3 linked regions of the Homo sapiens genome follow. The protein of the gene in region 3 purifies or fractionates together with the protein of the main gene of each other region. This does not show direct contact. Each region holds a gene or a part of one and is shown on either strand. Other genes may lie near its edges.

What was found.
Region 1: the proteins of FGL2 (region 3) and ITPR1 purify together in Homo sapiens (affinity purification with mass spectrometry; one large-scale study listed by BioGRID and IntAct). This does not show direct contact.
Region 2: the proteins of FGL2 (region 3) and FUT8 purify together in Homo sapiens (affinity purification with mass spectrometry; 3 studies listed by BioGRID and IntAct, with this or other methods). This does not show direct contact.

The regions. Positions count from the first base shown.
Region 1 is NC_000003.12:4,681,755-4,685,410, reverse strand, and holds part of ITPR1 (inositol 1,4,5-trisphosphate-gated calcium channel ITPR1), read right to left. Parts: intron 2,026-3,656; coding exon 1,860-2,025; intron 1,784-1,859; coding exon 1,613-1,783; intron 1,131-1,612; coding exon 1,065-1,130; intron 343-1,064; coding exon 205-342; intron 1-204. UniProt on the Homo sapiens protein: Inositol 1,4,5-trisphosphate-gated calcium channel that, upon inositol 1,4,5-trisphosphate binding, mediates calcium release from the endoplasmic reticulum (ER).
Region 2 is NC_000014.9:65,415,668-65,419,323, reverse strand, and holds part of FUT8 (alpha-(1,6)-fucosyltransferase), read right to left. Parts: intron 1-3,656. UniProt on the Homo sapiens protein: Catalyzes the addition of fucose in alpha 1-6 linkage to the first GlcNAc residue, next to the peptide chains in N-glycans.
Region 3 is NC_000007.14:77,192,853-77,196,959, forward strand, and holds the end of FGL2 (fibroleukin precursor), read right to left. Parts: coding exon 3,427-4,107; 3' UTR 517-3,426; downstream 1-516. UniProt on the Homo sapiens protein: May play a role in physiologic lymphocyte functions at mucosal sites.

The sequences.
Region 1 (3,656 bases), on a different chromosome or scaffold from region 3:
ACTGGGGATGAGGATTATTCACGGGTGATTTTACTTTATTTTTCAGATGCTCTGTTTCATATCAATACCTGAAATTGCTTTGTAGTCACAATAGTCACACTGGATGCATTTCTTCACTAACAATATCCAGATGTGAAGAGTTTGGGGAAACCCAGGGATCCGCCCCATCCTGAGAGCAGCTGCTGTGCATGAGGCACCGCTCACCTTCTCATAGGGAATCTGCAGCAGCTCCAGCACCACGGCGTGCGCGCCCATGTTCCGGAGCAGACGCTGTTGCTGCTTCCTGCTCTTTCTCACTGAGGCACTCTCTTGAACACAGAGTTTGCTAAGCCGAATCAAAATCTAGTAGAATGAAAGAAATCAGTCTCAGAAAACTAGGAACTATAGCTGGAAAAAGATTGCAGAGGGTGGTGGCGGGCAGGGAGGCAAAGGGGATTATAATGCATTAAAAACGTAAAACAAAATTCCTTCAGTATGTGGCATTTCTGTTGACTCCATCAAGCCAAATCCATAAGACTAAGGTCACGTCTTCCAGAATAAGCAGGGGATTATGGCTTCAACAACAAGTGGGACAGTTTCAGAGATATCGCTTAAAATGGAATGACCTGGCATCATTGCCGAGACCCTGGGAAGAGTTTGCTCTGGGGTAAAACACACAAAGCTCCCAGCCTCCCAACTTTGAACCAGCGTACGCAAAGGTTTCTAAAAAACTACAGCTCTCAGTGGGGACACTGTGTACCAGGCACTTAGATGACTCCCTGACAGTATTCTCAATTAGTCCTTCCTTCAATTGTAAAGCTTCAGAAATATGCGGTGCCTACGAAAGGTTGCACCTACAAAAGGTGAGGAAGCTGAGGACAAAAATAATAAGTAGAAGAGCTGGGTGTGGAGCCCAGATCTGATGCCAAAACCCATGAGCTTAACCTCTGAGCTCTACTTTCTCCCTGTTAAACCACATGAAGAAAAAAGCTCAAATGTGTGTACCTTCAACTTGACTATCACAAACTAAAGCTCCTTAGAGAATTCATAAAGAAAGGAAAAATGGTGGTGGGGGAGGAGCTTACCTCTTTGACCACTCTGTAGTTGTAGCTGCTGGTGCTTTCATGCTTTTGTGGCTTGTTATTTCCCTCCTAGAAACCAAAGTGAACACAAGTGTGATCTGTACAACTCTTGGGCTACTGTCAGTTTTTTACAGTTAGCATCGACCTTTAGGAAAGAAAGGGAGTTCTATACTGTTTTACAATAGTCATGCTGGGCTTATGCCCCAGTCATCTACCTACTTGCTATGGGTTTCCTTGGGAAGGGATAGTAGTGGGCTGGGCCATGCCTAGAGAACAGGTCAATTCCCAAGTGGGTCTGTAAGGGAAACCTGGTGCTAATTCACTCAATATCGCAGTCTCTTCTACATGGTCCAAGGCTGCACAGGAGACATAGCTAAACTTTGATTCGTAGCTTATTTCCTAGGCAAACAGCTTGTGATCTTGGTGACTTAACAAGCAGATCTCTTGAAAATAAATCCTATCACATTTATACCTAAAACCAGAAGAGGATGCTCCCTAGTTTCGAGAAGCCCATCCATCCACTTTGGCAGCATAACTTGTGTTTCACTCACCTCCGTTTTCTTATGTTCATTTTCTCCAGATGCACCATCCATAGTCTCATCGGGGCCCTGCCCTTTGTACACCCAAAGCTCTGACTTTTCCACGATGGACCTCAGTTGATCCAAGTCTTGTTTGATCTGTTTGTAGTTGTCCACATCTTGGCTGGTAACCAGCAGTTGAACCTTAATGAACGCAATCCGTTAGGTGCACACAACAGCTTCTTGGACAGACAACACACACGTGGGTGACCTGAGCTACCTGTTTGAAGGCCTGGAGCACCTCCTGCCTCTGGCTGAAGTGCCGGAAGAGGAGCTGCAGGGCCCCTGACACCAGGGGTGGGTAGTCATGCATCGTCAAGTGGAGCAGGACACGGAGAAAGGTTCTGCCGCCGTGGTCATCCAAGTCCAGTGGGGTGTTCTCCTCACTAAAGGAGCACAAGGTGGGGAAAGGCCAAATGAATGACAAATGCCTCCTCTCACGCCCCTTGGGCCCAGATGCACCTAACCTAGTTGCATTTCTAGCACTGTGATCTCCAGACATGCAATTTCACTTTTCATTAGCTCCTTTAACAATACAGCCTTGCTTCATCTTCAACTATATTATGAGGTGAGGGGACAAGGAAGATGTCATATTAAAAGATAAGTCAAATTTTAAGCCAAAGTGACAAGACTAGCATTAGATTCTCAACATCTACATAGGGTGTTCTTCTGCTGGGCTTCGTCTGTGGTCTGAGAACTGCAAGAGGATGTGTTTCTCCTAAGTTATTAGTTTATGTATTTAGTTTTTAGAGATGAGGTCTTGCTATGTTGCCCAGGCTGAATTCAAACTCCTATGCTCAAATGATCCTCCTGCCTTAGCATACTGAGTAGCTGGGACTATAGGAATGCACTACCATGCCTGACTATATTTAAATATTAATAAGCATATCCTAGATCAAATGGCAGACTACTCCATAACTGAGCACTGCTAGTCAATTATTGGGTCTGCACCTATATTGGGTTTAGAGTCAAATGAATGACAAATGGTGGAAACTTCCTGGTTGCTGGCTAATAAGAAAAGCACAGAGAAGACTTATAAATACTGTATTCATGCTATGTATTCCAAAAAGGTGTGAAGGTTTCAATGCTGTTCACTATGAGGAAAATGGCGGGAGAGCTGAGTGATCACACAGCACATGGAACCTGTATTATGCTAAACTCACAATACCATGTTTAAGTTTCAGAAAAACATCTTCCATCATAGTACATAATGTTGCTAATTCAAATTTCACAGGTTTTATATTAAGCATTGAGGTAGACTATTAACACTGGTGGGCCCCAACAGAGTGTTCAAACCCTTATGTAGTCCCCTCCCACACTGACAATGAGCTTGGCCATGGGATTTGCTTGAACAATAAGATATTAGGAGATGCAATGCAAGCAGAGGCCCAATTAGCACTTGCATACTGTTGGCTTGTCCTCTTAGAACATTTGCTTTTTGAGTCAGCCACCGTGCTGTAAAGAAGCCCAAGCTATCCACATGGACAGAGAGAGAAAGAAGTTCTGGCCTTGCAGGCATCTCTGCTATAGTGCCAGAAATGTGAATAATCCAACTTGGAGGTGCCAGCCCCAGTTACCACCTCACTACAGTATGACAGACCCAACAGTGACCACCAGCAGAAGAACCATCCAGCTTAATCAAGCCACAGGACTGTAAGAAGTATTAATAAAATGGTGGTGGTTTGAATCCTTAAGTTTTTTGGAGTAATATGTTATAAAGCAATAATCAAACCAAGTGTGCTAATTATAAGAACTATGTGCATATGGTGTTTATACCAAATTTTATACTTGGAGGTATAAGAGTTCCATAATTATAATAATGTCTTAAGTCAAAATTGACCAGTGCGGTTTTTTTTTAAAGGGGTTCATACATTAATATTAGGAACAATGAAAGACCAGATTTTGCTTTCTTTGTTGCATAGCCTGTAAGGAGCTCAGGGATAAAATTGTAGCCCAGCAGCAGCAGCAGGACATGATCTTACTAACTTCACTCTGTTTTGAGCCCCTCTCTCTTTCT
Region 2 (3,656 bases), on a different chromosome or scaffold from region 3:
TACAGTAATGAGGCACATGAAGGTTAGAATTTGTTTTTGTTTTTTTGTTTTGTTTTGTTTTTTGAGACAGAGTTTCACTCTTGTTGTCCAGGCTGGAGTGCAATGGCAAGATCTCGGCTCACTGCAACCTCCGCCTCCTGGGTTCAAGTGATTCTCCTGCCTCAGCCTCCCGGGTTCAAGTGATTCTCCTGCCTCAGCCTCCCAAGTAGCTACGATTACAGGCATGTGCCACCATGCCCGACTAATTTTGTATTTTTAGTAAAGATGAGGTTTCTCCATGTTGGTCAGGCTGGTCTCCAACTCCTGACCTCAGGTGATCCACCTGCCTCGGCCTCCCAAAGTGCTGGGATTACAGGCATGAGCCACCGCGCCCGGCCTATAAAATCATTTTTAATAAATAATATTAAATGCTATACAAATGAAGTTCTTCTAGTCTCTTGCCTACCACCTCAAAAGGAAATGATATCATTATAATAAACCTATTATAACATAAAAGCTAATGTTTTACCTGGAAATGTTCTATGAACTCTAAGGAAAAAAGTATACTGTAAAGATGGTCAATTCCCGCATTTCTTACCATTGCTAGAAGAGGATGACAAACAAGGAGAAGTAAGTAGAGGGAAAGAGAAAAACTGAATAAATCTCCTTCATCTCCAAATAAGGCAAGCTCATCAACCAGTATGCTCCTCTCTCTATCTCCCTCTCTTCACTGACTGCCCCAAGGTCCCAGACAATACAGAATCTATAAATTATATCTGTCCACTTTACCACTAATTAAGATATTACTATCAATTGTATTAATTGTAAAAATGCTTAGATTAGCTTATGGAATGTTGGCTTAAGTCATTAAATAACATTACAATGCTTTTATTATAGTTTTGATGGTTTGTAAATATTGTTTATACTCTAACCAAATTTAATCTGGTTCTAGATATTATTAGAATTTGATATCTCATTTAAGGGATATTATAGAAAAATCAGTCACAACATTGATAAAAACTTAAAACTCATTCATTGTCCATTGAAAGTCTTGATCAAATAAGACTTAGACAGATACACAGGTTCATTTTAGTTATACGTTAAAGGTAATTAAGAGGACTCTCCCATTTTCATTTTACTTTTGTTCAAGTTTACAATCAGAAAGTTATAGCATTTATGCACTTTCAAGTTTATATCATGAAGTTTATTCATTAGAAAAACTAATTCTAACCGTCTTCATGTGCCTCATTGCTACATGATATAAACTCATTACTCAGGTTCTAAAATAAACATTAGCTTAATTTTCCATTTTCATCTAAGATTATTATCAATGTTTTATTATTTTATAATGTGAACTTTATACTGACCAGTCATCAAGGCTGTGACAAGATCTTTCAAGTTCGTTTTCATATTTATTCAGTTTATGGAAAAATAAATTTTAAAAACCCAAGTTATAAAATACAACAAATACAGTGAGCATTTCGTAGTGATCTTTAAAAGTTTTTCTTTTATTCCAGTGCTTCGAGGAAGAAGTTATAGTATAACTATACAATCACTATAGAAGAAAAGGCAGAATAGCAAAGGCAAATTTGAACCACATTAACACTACCCTTATATTGGTATAATTTGTTAATTAAAAGAAGATTTATAAATTCAAAACGTATTTCTCCTTCACATTGTCATTTTCTGACCAAAAAAAAGACTACCACAAAGAGGTATTTTTTTAAAGTAGATGGGTAAGAAAATTTAAATGAAATTAGCCCTATAACTCTGCTTTCAGTAAGAGTACAAAAGTAACCCTTATATTGACAAATACGGCATAATTCCATAGGTCCCATTTGCTCTTCCTCCGTTAAAAGGAAAATGTGTAGTATCATATAAAGTTTATATGGGTTTTATGTTCAGAATATTGTAGAGATTAAGAAAAACCTTTGCCTGGTGGGAGGTAAGATTAACTTTATTGGTTTGATTTCCCATTATTCCAAATGGAAGACTGTTGGATGATGGGGGGTAGCTGGGGAAAGGAAAAAAATGCCAGGAGATTAGAATGTTGAAAGAAAGAGAAGTTGAGATTTGAAACTAATCCATTTTTTAAAAATCTTACAACCAAGCATGGTAGCTCACGCCTGTGGGAGGCCAAGGTGGGATGATCACTTGAGGTCAGGAGTTCAAGACCAGCCTGGGCAACATGGCAAGACCCTGTCTCTTTTAAACTTAGAAACAAACAAACAAACAAAAATCTTTTTAATAAAATAAAGGAGCCGGGTACAGTGACTCACGCCTGTAATCCCAGCATTTTAGGAGGCCAAGGTGTGAGGACCACTTGACCCCAGGAGTTCAAGACAAACCTGGGCAACATACCAAGGTCTCATCTCTACAAATATTAAAAAATAATTAGCCACGCATGGTGGCATGCACCCATAATCCCAGATACTCCAGAGGCTAAGGCGGGAGAATGGCTTGAACCAGGGAGTTCAAGGCTGCAGTGAGCCGTGATCACGCCACTACTGCACTCCAACCTGGGCAACATAGAGAGACAACCCCCAACCCCAATCTCAAAAAAAAAAAAAAAAAAATTAAAGAAAATAAAATGTTAAATCTACACATCCCCATATAATATTCTTCTGTTGGAGATTTTTTTACAGGTTCTTTAAAAATCAGTCGTAAATATCTTTTACTTTTAAATATGTTTAATTGTTTCACTATAACAAGCTGCAATGTAAAAACAATTCAAACTCCAAGAAAGAAACTCCATACTATACGGTAGTGAAATATGAGCCAGAGAATCAATAAGAGGATGCTACACTACTGTTGAAGACCAGAAGTTGATATCTCCTTTGAAAAGTATCAACAGAAGCAGCATTGATGCAGGGTACAAAAGTACTATAATAAAGCTGGCTGTGGTAGCACATGCCTATAGTCCCAGCTACTCAAGAGACTGAGGTAGGAGGATTGCTTGAGCCCAGGAGTTCAAGGCCAACCTGGACAAAACAGCAAGATCACATCTCTTTGGGGGAAAAAAAAAAAAAGGTACCATAATAGTAATACTTTTAGTTTCAGAGTTGTTTAAAAATCTTAATTTTATGTTTAGTAAAGTAACTTATTCAAGTTTTTTTAAATATTTACTCTTATGATTGTAAAACTTTCTTTTATATTTATCAATTTGCTATAATATGAAATGATGTATCCACCATTTAACTAAATCAAGAGATTTATTAAATGCAGTTTATCATAAATCAAAAATAACCATTAATGAAATGGAAGAATCTATTTACTTTATCAGCATTGAGATTCTATTTACATAATGAAGAGCTATGGATAATAAACAGCCCAAACACTATCTGCAAAAAAACCAATATTCCAATGATTTTAATATACATATAACTATCAGTTTCTAGGCTTGGATTTAAAGAATATGTGAATGGAAAGAAGTAAATTAACATACTAATTTATTACAGCTTAGAAACCTAAATGAAATGCCACAGGCCACAAAACAACTGCTTCGTATTCAAAGGCACACATTCAATTTGGTAGATCAGCTGGACGCACTGCATTATACTGCAGGAGATAAGGGTTAAGTGACCTGGGGATATTGTTCTCCAGATGTCTAAAAGGTCCATTTTTTTATTGGAATTATCTCTACTTTAAAAAAAAAAAAAAAAGGAATTATATCTACT
Region 3 (4,107 bases):
GCAGAGGTTGCAGTGAGCCGAGATCTCGCCATTGCACTCCAGCCTGGGCGACAGAGTGAGACTCCGTCTCTAAAAAAAATAAAATAAAATAATAAAAAAAAAGAAAAGAAGGCGTTGTTGAAAGTTTTTTAAGCAGGACAATAACATGATCAGAATTGTACTTTTGAACAATCCCCCTGGTAGGGATGAAAGTTGGACTGGAATAGACTGAAACCAGAGGTACAGACTATTCAGATGCGTTTGTGTTGTCCTAAGGAGATGAAGAGGGCTAACCAGAGCAGCAACACTAATAACGGAAAAAGAGGAGAGGAAGTTGAATGCCACAAAATGAAACTGAAACTTTTGTATTTCAAATGTTTCAACAGTATTCTAGAGGGAAGTAAGATAATGGTGTTCCTCTATTTGCCTCTGACTTCTTGTTAATGAAATAGTACTCATTAAAGTCTTCAGAGTCACAGATATTGTATAGCTGAGGTAAGCATTTTACAACTTTTCAGACACAAGTAAGTACATAAATATTATTTTACAACCAACAATATTTAATATTTCCACATTGAAGAATAGATGTGATAATTAAATCTTTTATAAGGTTTTAAAAAGACATGAAACATAAACCTAATTATACATAAAAGAAAAGAATTTTAAACAAGAGCTTATTGTGATGACATTACTCATAACTTTTACCTTTAAAACCTTTTCTTGGGTAGCTATTCAAAAGTAAAGACCACAAGTTTTGTTGCCCAGATTTCTTATGTTTTGTATATTTAAGCTCTTTATTTATTGAACAGATGTGTCATTAATTCATTTGGAGCATTACTATTATCAGTAAAATTTGATTTTTTTTTCCCCTCAGTCATAGGTAAATCAGCTCCACCTGGAATTTCTAAGGACCCAGTTTTAGTCAATATTTTCAAGTAATCATGACCTCAGAAATAGTCTTAATTAAGATAACAAATATTAGCCATCAAAATGGAACCAAGACAAGATTCTAATGTTTGTAAACAGTCAATCCATATTTATGAATATTAGCATATATTGGTGAATAGTTAAGGCAAAAGGTTCTAGCAGATGTAATCTATTTCCATCAACATGTTAAATGTTATAAAAGTCTAGAATTATTGGTAACATGAAATGATTCCAAAATGGAATTTCTGTGTTACAGAATTTACTAGAAAAGTGCTGTGAAAGTATAATGAAAAATAAAGTGATCCCTTGAAATAATGTGGATAGAACAAGCTTTTGAATATTTACATGGATTAATGAATTATTTGCCAAATTCTCCTGAAGTTATACCTAGTTCCCATTAAATTAATGGACACCGTGTATATGAGCATATACCTTTCTTTAGAACTATGTTTTGTGATAAGTCCATTTTTACTCACAGGAATTTACTTAAACTTGTACATATATTAATTATATATACTAAATGACAATGACCTTATCTGAAACAAATACATTGTATAATATCAAAACGTTTTTAGTCTTTTTTAAAAAGTAAAAAGTAAAAAACAACGTCAGTTACATCATTTACATTTGGTATCCCACCTAATAGAGACACAGCTTTTGAAATCTACAATATTTTACATTTTGGTCATCATTTAATGCTATTTGCATTTCTCTTTAACATTTTAATAGTATTTGTGATATATCATGTTTAACTGAAAGCTTTGGGTTATATATTTTAAAGGAATATCTTACTTTTTGACTAAATAGTTCTGTAAGGGCCTAATATTTGAAAAATTAGCTTGTTACCTGAAGCAACTATCCTCCTTAATCATTTTAAAATAATGGGTAAAGATGCATCTTTGTAAATATATTTTGAAAACTTGGTTAGTGTATTAGAAACAGACACCAGAAATTAAAAAAATTATTTCTAGGACTGGCATACACTACAGTGAATTACTTCAAATGTTACTCTAGAGCATTTTTAAAAATACGCAGAATACTGCTGTTCTCTCTGAGATGATCCCTTTTTACGATGATGAAATTAAACACATTTAAAAAGTCTTTTAAATATTATATATAGCATTCCAGAATTGATGAATTATAAAAATTACAGATACTTCTGTTTGGGTAAAAATCTATCTTTTAGTTTCTGATAGTAAAATAAGCAATCTACCAGCCAGGGTTGAAATATATAGTATTTTAACTACTGTTCTATATATTTCAAAATTCATGTTTTCTATCTGTCCTAGAGAAACTTAGCCTTCTATGAAGTGAATCACTTAATGATATTATTGCTTTGGAGATAAAATTGGCCTCAGAGTATGATAGCCTGTAAGTAAATGCTTCATTACCCACATATCCCTACCCACCCCCCCCAAAAAAACCTACCAGTAGTCTAGTACAGTAGTGAGCAATCTTAAATTAAAAGCTATTGTTCACACAGAGCAGAGGAAGATAATTTTCATGTTAAAGCAGTTTTCAACATCAAACATCTAAGGAGTTATAAACTATAAATGAATTACCTTTAAACCCTGGTCTTCACAGTTACATTGCTTTCTGAATGCTTTTTGGGGTGACATTATGCTACCACATTTTTAAACGGTTTAAATGACAAGTATTTTATATTTCATGAATGATAAATGAACAAGTTTAATTATATAGATATTAGTTCCCTTAGTCTGGGAACCAAAATGCTGTAGGGTTGTTCTGTTGCAAAGTAAATGATATAGATTAAGTTTGTCTCAGAATGAAGATTACCCAAATAATTATAGCCTGAAAAGAGTGATATACCTTCAGATGTGCTTAAATCATGGCCCAAATACAGATTACTTTGTGTAGAATCCAGCCTACTGAATAAATTTTATTATTTTTTTGTTTGAGACAGAGTTTTCTCTGTCACCCATGCTGGAGTGCAGTGGCTCAGTCTTGGCTCACTGCAACCTCTTCCTCTCAGGTTCAAGCGATTCTCCTGCCTCAGCCTCCCAAGTAGCTAGGATTACAGGCATGTACCACCATGCCCGGCTAATTTTTGTATTTTTAATAGAGACAGCGTTTCACATGTTTGGCCAGGCTGGTCTCAAACTCCTGACCTCAAGTGATCTGCCTGCCTTGACATTCCAAAGTGCTGGGATTACAGGCGTGAGCTACCACACCCAGCCAACAATTATTTTTTAAATACAGCAAGTAATACAAGCAATAGAAAAAGTTTCAATAGAAATTAAAAGAATTGTAAATCTAATGTATAATTCTCAATATTGCTAATTGCTTGCAAGTGTTCATTGGATAACAGCATAACAACAAAGGACTCCTTTAAAATGCATTGTTTTTCAGCTTTATTTCAAATGCTGTGTAGCATAAGAACCTAGCCGTCAGACATCATTTTTTAGCTATGAAAAATATGAAACAAGGCATATTCTAAAGTGCTGAAGGAATTAATTGCCCTATTAGATAACGAATACCTGGAGGAATGAACAGAGTGATTTATGGCTTAAAGTGCTTGGGTCTGATCATCATCTTAGCCTCTTTGAAGGAGGACTTGTAGCCACCAGGGTGTGCCTCACTTACACCAGGCCAGGTACCCCAGAAAATCCCATTACGGACACCTCTGTATTTTTGGTGATAATATTTGCCATTTAAGTTTGCAGAAAGACATGCATCAAACCACCAGCCTGAACTGTAGTACAGCCCACAGTTCCCAGAAGGATATCGATCATTGTCTTTATCTGGAGTGGTGAAAAACTTCAGATCGTGGTTGTAATGTTTGTTGAAACGTAATGCATCTCCAGCTGTGCCATTATAGTTACCAACGTGTAAACGATATTTGAGAAACTCATTAGCCACATAAAACTGATCATACAAGGCATATAGTTCGACACCATTAAAGTCTTCAAGATCTATTCTCAGAATCATTTCCTTACTCTTGGTCAGAAGATGAATTTTATCGTTCCCCAGCCAAAATTCCCTTCTGAGGTTTCCAAAGCCTGCTTTGTAGTCTTGCCATGTTCTGGTGAAGTTGGTGCTCCCATCGAGACGTGCCTGCAGCACTGTCCAGCCTCCCCCCATGGTCTCCATGTCACAGTAAACTTCAAAGCTACTATTTTTGGGATCAGGTGTAACTCTGTAGGTCTCACTGCTTCTTTTGCCTATTGCGTAGTAGTCAGA